Homo sapiens: one gene and its partners. The protein of the gene in region 1 purifies or fractionates together with the protein of each later gene. This does not show direct contact. Each region holds a gene or a part of one and is shown on either strand. Other genes may lie near its edges. The genes, in order: PRM2, ZNF638 and IPO5.

What was found.
Region 2: the proteins of PRM2 (region 1) and ZNF638 purify together in Homo sapiens (affinity purification with mass spectrometry; one large-scale study listed by BioGRID and IntAct). This does not show direct contact.
Region 3: the proteins of PRM2 (region 1) and IPO5 purify together in Homo sapiens (affinity purification with mass spectrometry; one large-scale study listed by BioGRID and IntAct). This does not show direct contact.

The regions. Positions count from the first base shown.
Region 1 is NC_000016.10:11,275,005-11,278,001, forward strand, and holds PRM2 (protamine-2), read right to left. Parts: upstream 1,477-2,997; 5' UTR 1,367-1,476; coding exon 1,096-1,366; coding exon of another isoform or gene 1,058-1,095; exon of another isoform or gene 1,049-1,057; intron 978-1,048; coding exon of another isoform or gene 934-977; coding exon 896-933; coding exon of another isoform or gene 826-895; 3' UTR 635-825; downstream 1-634.
Region 2 is NC_000002.12:71,352,257-71,355,911, forward strand, and holds part of ZNF638 (zinc finger protein 638), read left to right. Parts: intron 1-3,462; coding exon 3,463-3,524; intron 3,525-3,655.
Region 3 is NC_000013.11:98,012,576-98,016,230, forward strand, and holds part of IPO5 (importin-5), read left to right. Parts: intron 1-1,466; coding exon 1,467-1,639; intron 1,640-2,954; coding exon 2,955-3,066; intron 3,067-3,150; coding exon 3,151-3,206; intron 3,207-3,655. UniProt on the Homo sapiens protein: Functions in nuclear protein import as nuclear transport receptor. Serves as receptor for nuclear localization signals (NLS) in cargo substrates.

The DNA of each region.
Region 1 (2,997 bases):
AGGCCGAGGAGAGCAGGCAACAAGGATCGGATTCTGCCTGGGTCTCCAGAGGCTTCAGCCAGCACAGGCCTCACACAGCGCAGCCCATTACTCTGCATTCATCTACTCCTTGCCTTTTGCCGTCTCTGTGCTGACCAAGTTGTTGCTGGAGCATGCCAGACCTGTTTCCCACCTCGAAGCTGTGGCCTGCACTGAGCAGTGCCCCCACCTCTGCCCCCACCGTTTACACTTCCAACCACCCAACACTCAAGATGGGTTGTGTTTTTAAACTGTGGCACACAGTAGGCATTTAAATATGGCCACAAGGTGCCTTGGCATCTTTGTGACTTAATTAGGACTCGATCTGTTCTAACCATTTTCTCCTTTCATGAGGTAGGATCAGGTTCTTCACTGGAGGGGGATCCAGACAGACTAATGTGGCCTTTGACACCATGGAAGGATGCACAATAGACAGGACAGCATCATAGGGTGGCCTCCCAGGCACAGTAACCCTCTCCTAGGTGTCCTGAGAGCATCAGAACTCCCGCCCTACCTGCCTCTGAGGAAGGGCTGCAGAGAAGCCTCTACCCGCCCTGGGCGTGAGGGAAGCCAGGTTTGTGTGATTCGTGCAAAGAAAACCCGACAGGCCAGCGAGTGTCTTGTCAAGCTTTATTGGGCAGGTGACTTTTGCTCGTTTCACTCAGATCTTGTGGGCTTCTCGGCGGCAACTCAGGGCTTGAGCATTTGATGTAGGGGAGTTGCTATGGCCTCACTCGGTGTTTCTTGGGCAGGTGACTTTCTCTTAACTTCCAGCTGGGGGCTTGAGCATTTGATGTAGGGGAATTGCTATGGCCTCACTTGGTGTTTCGGGCGACTTTTTCTTAATTTCCAGCTGGGGGTGAGGGGCCCAGGAAGCTTAGTGCCTTCTGCATGTTCTCTTCCTGGTTCTGCAGCCTTTTGGGAAAGAAAGTTCTGGTTGAGGGGGTCACCTAGGGACTCTGGGTGGGGACGGGGGTTAGGGGGCTGGAGCTTTTGTCAGGTGGGGTGGGTCCCCGCCTCCCTCCTGTGCCTGGGGTGGTCAGGGACATGCAGGGCAAGGCGGGGGCGCAGGCAGACCTCTGCGATGCCTCCTCCGGTGCCTGCAGGAGCGTCTTTTGCGCCTTCTGCAGGAGCGATGCTGCCGCCTGTGGATCCGGTGCAGCCTCCTTCGAGAGCAGTGTCTGCGCCTATAGTGAGACTGGCCATGGGTCCTCTCGTAGACCTCGACGTGCTCCGGGCTCAGCCCTTGCTCCTCTTGGCCGTGGTGTCCTTGCTCTTGCCCATGCAACTGCTGCCTGTACACCTCGTGCGAGCGTTCGCTCAGGCTCCTCACGCGGTATCGGACCATGGTGTTGGGAGATCTGGTGGCTCCTGGGCTGAGGCTGCAGTGGGCCCTGGAGTAGGGGAGGAGGGCGGAGGCCTGCCCACCTGCCCTTGGTGTTACTGTTGGTCTGGTCTGCAAGGCTCCCCGGGAGCTTGTATATAAAGGGGGCGCCCACTATGACTCTGCGGCCCCGCCCAGTCCCCACCCTGCCCAGCCTCCTCTGTGAGGGCAGCACAGGGCCAGGGGTCACAACTAGCAGGGCCCTGGCACCCAAGCTGCAGGGCTGGAAGGGCGAGAGACCCCCTTGCCTTGCCTGTAAAGCATGTCCTCTGTCTCTTGCAGTAGGTGAACCATACAGATGGCAGGTGTTTTATTGCCTAATCCAAGCCCTCATCTCCCCAAGCCGGTGGGTGCGCACATTGTCATTTGGAAGCTTCCTTGCCAACTCACTGCTGTGCCACAGCCACCATGTGGAAGGGACTTCCGTGCTTGGATCTCTGTGCACACAGCTTACTGTTAAGATGGCAACAGCAGCAAACAGTTCCCTAATAGCTCCTATGTGCCAAGCATTGATTCATTTATTTCCCATACATTCACTCATTCTCTCTCTCTCTCTCTCTCTCTCTCTCTCTCCTCTTTTTGTTTTGAGGCACTGTCTGTCGCCCAGGCTGGAGTGCAGTTGTGCAATCATGGATCATAGCAGCCTCTACCCCTCCAGCTCAGATGATCCTGCCACCTCAGCCTCCCGAGTAGCTGGGACTATAGGCGTGTGCTGCCACTCCCAGCTAATTTTTTGTATTTTTTGTGGAGATAGATAGGGTTTCACCATGTTGCCCTGGCTGGTCTCACACTCCTGGCCTCAGTGAGCCTCCCATGTCGGCCTCCCAGAGTGCTGGGATTACAGGTGTGAGCCACCACCCTTGCATTCCTCACTCTTACAATCCTCATTTTCTGTGGGGCAAACAGGCATGAAGAAGTTGAGTTGCTCAAGGCCACTCTGCTGAGAAGGCCAGGCCGGGCCAGCATTCAGACGGAGACAGCCTGGTTTTAGTCATACCCTTGGCTCTCCACCTCCTCCCTAGCCCAGGGAATGCTCCCCTCTCCGCCTCCAAAATATTCATCTTCTCCCCTCCCGCTCGGCCTTGCCGGGGCTTCTCATTGAACTTTGATGATCCCATTAAAGTCCGGGATCAGAATCACAGAAACTGCAAAACCAGTTTCCCTTTCATGGAGGGCAGGGAGAATGTGGGAATGTGGCAGATACACAAATTTAAGGACTTGAAGATGCAGAGATCATCCCAGATGATCTGGGTTGGCCCAGTGCAGTCACGAGGGTCCTTAGAAGAGAGAATAGGGAGGCAGGAGGGTCACAGGAAGAGAAACTGGGAGACACCACACTGCTGGCTTTGAAGATGGAGGGAGAGGCTATAAGCCAAGGGATGCAGGCGGCCTCTAGAAGCTGGGATGGACAAGGAAATGGGTTATCCTCCCCTCGTGCATCCAGGAGGAACACAGCCCTGCTGACCCCTTGATTTTAGCCCCATGAGACTTCTTTCAGAATTCTGACCTGCAGACCTGTAAGATAATGCATTTATGTTGTTTAAAGCTACAAAATTTGTGATGATCTGTCACAGTGGCAATAAGAAACAAATTCA
Region 2 (3,655 bases), on another chromosome or scaffold:
CACCTGAGGTCAGGAGTTCAAGACCACCCTTACTGACATGGTGAAATCCTGTCTCTACTAAAAATACAAGAATTAGCCGGGTGTGGTCATGCGCACCTGTAATTCCAGCTACTCAGGAGGCTGAGGCAGAGAATCGCTTGAACCCAGGAGGCAGAAGGTTGCAGTGAGCCGAGATCGCGCCGCTGCACTCCAGCCTGGGTGACAGAGCGAGACTCCATCTCAAAAAAAATAAAAAAAATAAAAAAAAAAAAAAAGAAGAGGAGGGTTGGCGGCAACAACATACAGAGAGGCAGAGGTCCGGAGAGAAGACTACATTTCATTGTGGTAGGAGGCAGTTGGGAAAGAGTGATGAGCGTATTAGAAATAAGTACGAAAGGCTTTGAAGAGCTAGCCTAGGAGTTTAGACTTGAGGTGAGAGGCATTAGAAAGCTAAATAAGTTTGTTGATAAGTGAAGTGACATGTTGGAAGTATATTTTAGGGAGATCTGACTGAAGTATGCAGGGTAAATAGAAATGAGATGATGTGGAGTAGGACTTCCACTTGGAAGCTTCTTTAATTGTTCAAGTATAAGATGGTAAAAACCTGGGTTAATAGGATAAAAGTAAAAATTTGAGAGGAAAGGAAATCATTTAGTCATCATTAGAGCTCACCTAGATAGATTGCCATTAAAAAACAGACACACCTTTTAACAGCACAACAGAATGGGGCTCATCTAAGTAATGAATTTTTCACTACTAAGTGGCCAAATGATAGGGATTTGTGAAGATGGATTTCGATGGTACACACTGCCTCTCGTTTCTGTGATATATTTTGCAGCCTCGTAAGTGTTCCTGTGTGTGTATATATGACATAAATATGAAGCCAATAAATGTAAATTACCAATTGTAAACTTTTTCCTATTGAGTAAATCTGACAATATGTATATTCCCCACCTTCGAGTCTTTGAAACTATAGCTGTGAAGATGTACTTTGAGAACGTGAAATGTATTTGCTTGTTAAATTGGGGTTCAGATTTTAAAGGAGAAACTTCCCTTGGTTTAGGAGCTGTGTCATAATGACTGAAATAATTCAGTTTGAGAAAGTACCGACAATAAAAAATTGTTGAGAATAGTGAGTGAGCCCTGATACGAGTAGTTATATATTTTCAGTTTCATTCTGAGCCTGCCTAATTCTGTGCAGTCCTTGCAGCATCTCCTGCTAGTAGGTAATTATCACTTTTTCTCTGGGGAGGCAGTGCTGCTTTTGGACTATAATGTGGAAACTATTACTAGAGAGTCTAGAAGTTGGGGTGGGATGGGTGTGTTTACTGAGCTTAAAGCAAGTAATGTCAATTTGTGAAGCAAGCCTAAGAATGTGTGTATGTGTGTTGAACTGAGAAGAGTATATCTTAAATAGGGCAGCCATCATCTTCAGGTGATAGTTGCTGTAAGAATGATATCCTGTATTACTGTATCTTCCTATTTTTTCAAGAAAAGCTGGAAATCTGGACTTGCGGGTAAAAATCTCTGGATTATTAAATGTTGGCAACGTATTCAGATAAAACACTTTATGGTTCAAATAAATCATGCCCAACCCACTGCCTGCACCAGTGTGTCTGTTTGATGTAAACAGTGTCCAATTAATATTAAAAATATGGGTTTTAGTACTACTAGAGACTCTTCTTCTAGCTTTCTATTTGTATTATTAAACAGGATGTACAAACATTTCTTTTTTGTAGTCCACAATCAGTTCCATGGCTTAATGAAATAGTTTAGGATTTGTCATACCTTGTTGCTGAGTTTAAATTGATGCTGAGCATTGCAAATCAGTGTACCTTCTTTCAGATAGTTCTTGCCAAGGCAGAATCCAAAATTATTGTCAACCGTGGTTTTAACTGTGGAAACTTCTAATGACCTAAACTAAAATGTATTTCAAATGGAAACAAATAATAACATTTTCCTTAAGCAAAGTGTTGAAATACGAAGTTATTTAGTAAGTTTTCTGCCTTTCCAAATGCTGGAGGAACAGTAAAACATTGAGTAACATACATATTGCTTTTAACTAATTGTTTCACCTTGGAAACTGTATCTTTGTAAACTGTATTGGCTTTTTTTTTTTTTTAACCAGATGTATCTTCCAGAGTTATTTATGGGTACACATTGTAATTTTAGGACAGATTTATTTGTAAATGAAGTAATGTATAAGAAAGCATTTTGGGCTGGGCATGGTGGCTCACGCCTGTAATCCTAACACTTTTGGGAGGCCGAGGCAGGTGGATCACCTGAGGTCAGGAGTTCGAGACCAGCCTGACAAACATGGTGAAACCCTGTCTCTATTAAAAATACAAAAATTCACCAGGCTTGGTGGCACATGCCTGTTAATTCCAGCTACTAGGGAGGCTGAGGCAGGAGAATCACTTGAACCTAGGAGGTGGAGAGTGCAGTGATCCGAGATCGCCTCATTGCACTCCAGCCTAGGCAGCAAGAGTGAAACTGTCTCAAAAAAAAAAGAAAAGAAAAAAAAAAAAGAAGCATTTCGTTAATTGTAAAGCTCAAAGCTCTATATGTAAGGGATATTGTATCTTTGAAATGTTGTTACTTTTAAATTTTGAAAATAGATTTGATCAGTAGCATTTTTCCCCATGTTTTTCCTAATCTTATTTGCCAGTATAGTGAGTACCTTGTATGGAATGGTACTGGTCTATCAGGTAGCATTTTTATTTTATTTTTATTTTTATTTTTATTTTTTTGGAGACAGAGTCTCGCTCTGTCGCCCAGGCTGGAGTGCAGTGGCGCAATCTCGGCTCACTGCAAGCTCCGCCTCCCGGGTTCACGCCATTCTCCTGCGTCAGCCTCCTGAGTCGCTGGGGCTACAGGTGCCCGCCACAACGCCTGGCTAATTTTTTGTATTTTTAGTAGAGACAGGGTTTCACAGTAGTGTCGATCTCCTGAACTCGTGATCCGCCCTCCTTGGCCTCCCAAAGTGCTGGGATTACAGGCGTGAGCCACTGCGCCCGGCGGCATTTTTTGATTGTTGATGTTGTTAGCGTGAATTTTAGAGGTATTTGTCATTGAAATATTGTATTTTGAAGATGCTGTTTCACAGATACCGTTTTACTTATAGATTTTTTGGTGTTTTCTGGTGTGTTGTTTTTATATTTGCAGTAAGTTTTTTCTGATCCATGCTTTTATTTTCTCCAAGTTTATATATTGATTTCAAAATGAGCATCCACGGGTATGATTTTGAAAATGTTTTCTGTACTAAAATATTTTCAAATGGGATCAGTGAGGTATGGTATTAAGTGCATTTGTTTCAAGGCCTTTAATTTTTGTTTGTGAAAATTTTACTGAGCAGCCAAATGCTATTTATGAGTACGTTTGTTTAATTTTTGAACAAAATATTATTTGTCTTTTTTAAAAGCCTAATTCATTAGTCAACATGAGGAATATTCTAATTTCAACACTTTTCTCCTTTTACAATAGGATTGGATTCAGCATCAAAATACATCTACTCATATTGAGAGCTGTCGACAGTTACGTCAACAGTAAGAATATATTTTTCCTTTATTATAGATAGCATATTTACAAAATAGTTAATGTTCAGATGTGACTGTTAAATACCTTTAGTATAATACTTTGGAGAAAAATATTTTTGGAAAGCTATTGTCTTTTAAAA
Region 3 (3,655 bases), on another chromosome or scaffold:
TTAAGGATTTAAGGATAATTAGCAAATGATTACAATTATATATAGTTGCTACTTTCCCCAAATATCTTTTGGTAAACGTTAAGAAAATAAGACTTTTATTTTAAGAGATGGTGTCTCACTCTGTCACCTAGGCTGGAGTGCAGTGGCGTGATCAGGACGCACTGAAACCACAACTTCCCAAGTAGCTGGGACCCAGGTGCACAACACCAAGCCCAGCTAGATTTGATTTTTTTTTTTTTTTTTTTTTTTTTTAAGAGATAAGGTCTGCCTATGTTGCCCAGGCTGGTCTCAAACTCCTGGGCTCAAGCAGTCCTCCTGCCTTGGCCCCACAAAGTTATGGGATTACACACCTGAGCACTGTGCCTGGCAAGACCTGTCTTAATAGATTAGAGAACCACTGATAGATGGTCAGCTTTCTGTAGCAGTGAGAACCCTACATTTCAAATGTGGATAGCACCTTTGCGGGGAAACATCACTTGGCACATCTGCATTCTTTTTTGACACAGGGTCTCACTCTGTTGCCCAGGCTAGAGTGCATGGCACGATCTTAGCTCACTGCAACCTCCACCTCCCAAGTTCAAGCGATTCTTCTGCCTCAGCCTCCTGAGCAGCTGGGATCACAGACATGCGCTACCATGCCCAGCTAATTTTTTGTATTTTTTGTTTGTTTGTTTTTGTTTTTAAGTAGAGACGGGCTTTCACCACGTTGGCCAGGCAGGTCTCGAACTCCTGACCTCAGGTGATCCACCCACATCTGCGTTCCAATATCTTTCTCAACATAATGATAGCCGTAATTAATATTTTCCAGTACATTTTTATGCCTTTACACACGAGAGTGGTAGACAGACACAAACCCAGATCTGTCTGACTCCAAAGCCCGTTTGTCATCATTCCTTTTACGGTATCCTATAGTGGTATCCTTTACAGAAGACAGCTTTTACCCAACAAAGACTTAACTTCCCAGGATGCCAGAGGACAAAGCGGGATTGCTTTTAAGAGGAAGTTATCAAGACCTTATTTTATAAATGAGATTAGATAGGGAAAGGCAATTTAATCTTTATTAAAAACTGAAAAGGCCAGCATAGGAAGAGGTCCTCGGTGGTCTTTTTCAGGGAAATACTTCAGTTGCTTTTATTAGAAACAGATAGTACCTAAGGTTTTGAGGTAGGTACAGCTTAAGGCATGCTAATGGTCATGGGTCCTTCCATAGTCATTTTTGTATTTTGGTTTACATTTGAGCAATAGGCAGCCCTTCACTGCTGCTGGACTCATTCCTGCCACTATTACAGGTGACAGAGGAGACAGGAGGTATGTCTTTTCTATTTTTATACATGCTTTATATTTAACACAAGCTCTTGGGTATCTTAGATAAACAGAAGTTGCCTAGCACTCCTTTTAGTGCATTGAACCCTTTAACATTTAAGCAAAATAATAAACAGTCTTTTGAGGTTCCTTAACAATGAAACGTGTTCGAGTGGCAGCAGCGGAATCCATGCCTCTTCTCCTGGAGTGTGCAAGAGTCCGTGGTCCTGAGTATCTCACACAGATGTGGCATTTTATGTGTGATGCTCTAATTAAGGCCATTGGTACAGAACCAGATTCAGACGTCCTCTCAGAAATAATGCATTCTTTTGCAAAGGTGAATATTTTTCTCTTAAAAAATATGTATAAGGTTGTATGTTCATTTATTAGTCTTGCTAAAAGTAAAAAAAAAAAATTTGAGACAGGGTATTGCTCTGTCACCCAGGCTGGAGTGCAGTGGCGCAATCGCAGCTCACTGCAACCTCCACCTCCTGGGTTCAAGCAATTCTCATGCCTCATCCTTCCAAGTAGTTGGGATTATAGGCATGCACCACCACACCTGGCTACTTTTTGTATTTTTAGTAGATGTTCCTCAGGTCTCAAACTCCTGGCCTCAGGTGATCCACCTCGGCCTCCCAGAGTGCTGGGATTGCAGATGTAAGGCAGCTAAATAAATTTTTATATGCTATAGTGTATGATTTGTTAAAAAATAAAAATGTTAAATTTTTTGTTTTAATATTTTGGTATTATTATGTTTGTTTTAAAGAGGGTAAATTTGCCTTGGAAGGGCAGTATAGGTAGAGGGAATGATATGGGCAGCAGCATGGAAGCATGCATTCTTTGGAAAAAGAGAAGAAATTCTGAATACTCTAGTATTTTAGTCTTGCACTTAATAATCCAACTATAGAAGCTTGGGTATCATCTCCAGTTTCTGTTCTTTACACTTTCCTCAATTCTTCTCTTTTTTTTTTTTTTCATTGCCCCATCTCTTTTTCATGCCATTGAAATAGCCTCACTTGGGCTACTCCAGATGTCTCCTTTCTTTTCCTCTCAGTTCATTCTCCTTTCCTCAAGCACTGCCTTCCTCTTCATTGAGTCACTTCCTTTCTCATACAGTGTCACTCCCATTTTGCACAACTCTAGTTTGCTCCAATCTTGATTGAAGATTTACAGTTTCTCAGCATCTTTATATGTCCTTATTTACACTCCTGTAATTCAGAATTGCTTCTGATTTTCCAAAGACAGCATGCTTCCATACCTTTGCCTATATTTTATTTCTTCTACCTCTAATGCCCTTCCTTCAGTGTTCTTGTATGTTGTGTGTACGGAGTATGGATATAGCAATTGTGTTCCTTAGGAGCTGGTTGTGTGTGTGTGTGTGTGTGTGTGTGTGTTTTCCATCTTTGAATCCTCAGTACCAAGCATGATGCCTGGCACCTAGGTATGCTCAGTAGTGTTCAAAAGAAAATATTTTTTTCTAACTCCAATCTCTAAAATGCTGTCATTCTAACAAATACAAGCTAAGCATATGTAAATAATCTTCCAGGATACTGAACTGTGTTCATTTTTCCATATGATTCTTAGTGGAGTTTAACTTTGGACTCCAAACACCCCAAATCTTATGGATTGCTTTCTTTCCTCAACCTCATTAGTGCATTGAAGTAATGGGAGATGGATGCCTTAATAATGAACACTTTGAAGAACTGGGAGGTATATTGAAAGCAAAGCTTGAAGAACATTTTAAAAATCAAGAATTACGACAAGGTAAGTTTTCCATGCTTTTATTTCTGAATATAATCCTTGACCATCTTGGCAATCATTTAAAACATTTATTTGGGTGTGTTTTAGTTAAAAGACAAGATGAAGACTATGATGAACAGGTCGAAGAGTCACTACAAGATGAGGTAAGTTATTCCCTTTGGAACTTACTTACGTGACCACTTGCATCTGAAAGACTTGTAAATGCCTCAATTTCTGATTTATGTGACTTGTCATTCTGATGTAATTATCAGTCTTTAGCAGAGGAGTCAGATATATTTCCTCTCTTAATTTATGAATAAGTAATTTGAAATTAAACTGATATGTCTTTCGGTGCTATGTGCATTTTGTTGTAATACCTCACTCAACAAAACACCTTGAGGTTTACCTAGTTCATTTACATACTGCTCACAACAACCATTTGTATTTTGTGGTGCTTTCACTATATTAAAGATGAGTAACCTAAAATTCCAGTGTTAAATGATTGCCTAGAGTCACACTGTTGACGGTCTGGGGCCTTTTTCACCATGTTACTTAGTTCTCTCATCAAACCACCTAGGACTGTCAAGCATACTTCATTGTGTGTTTAGAGTCC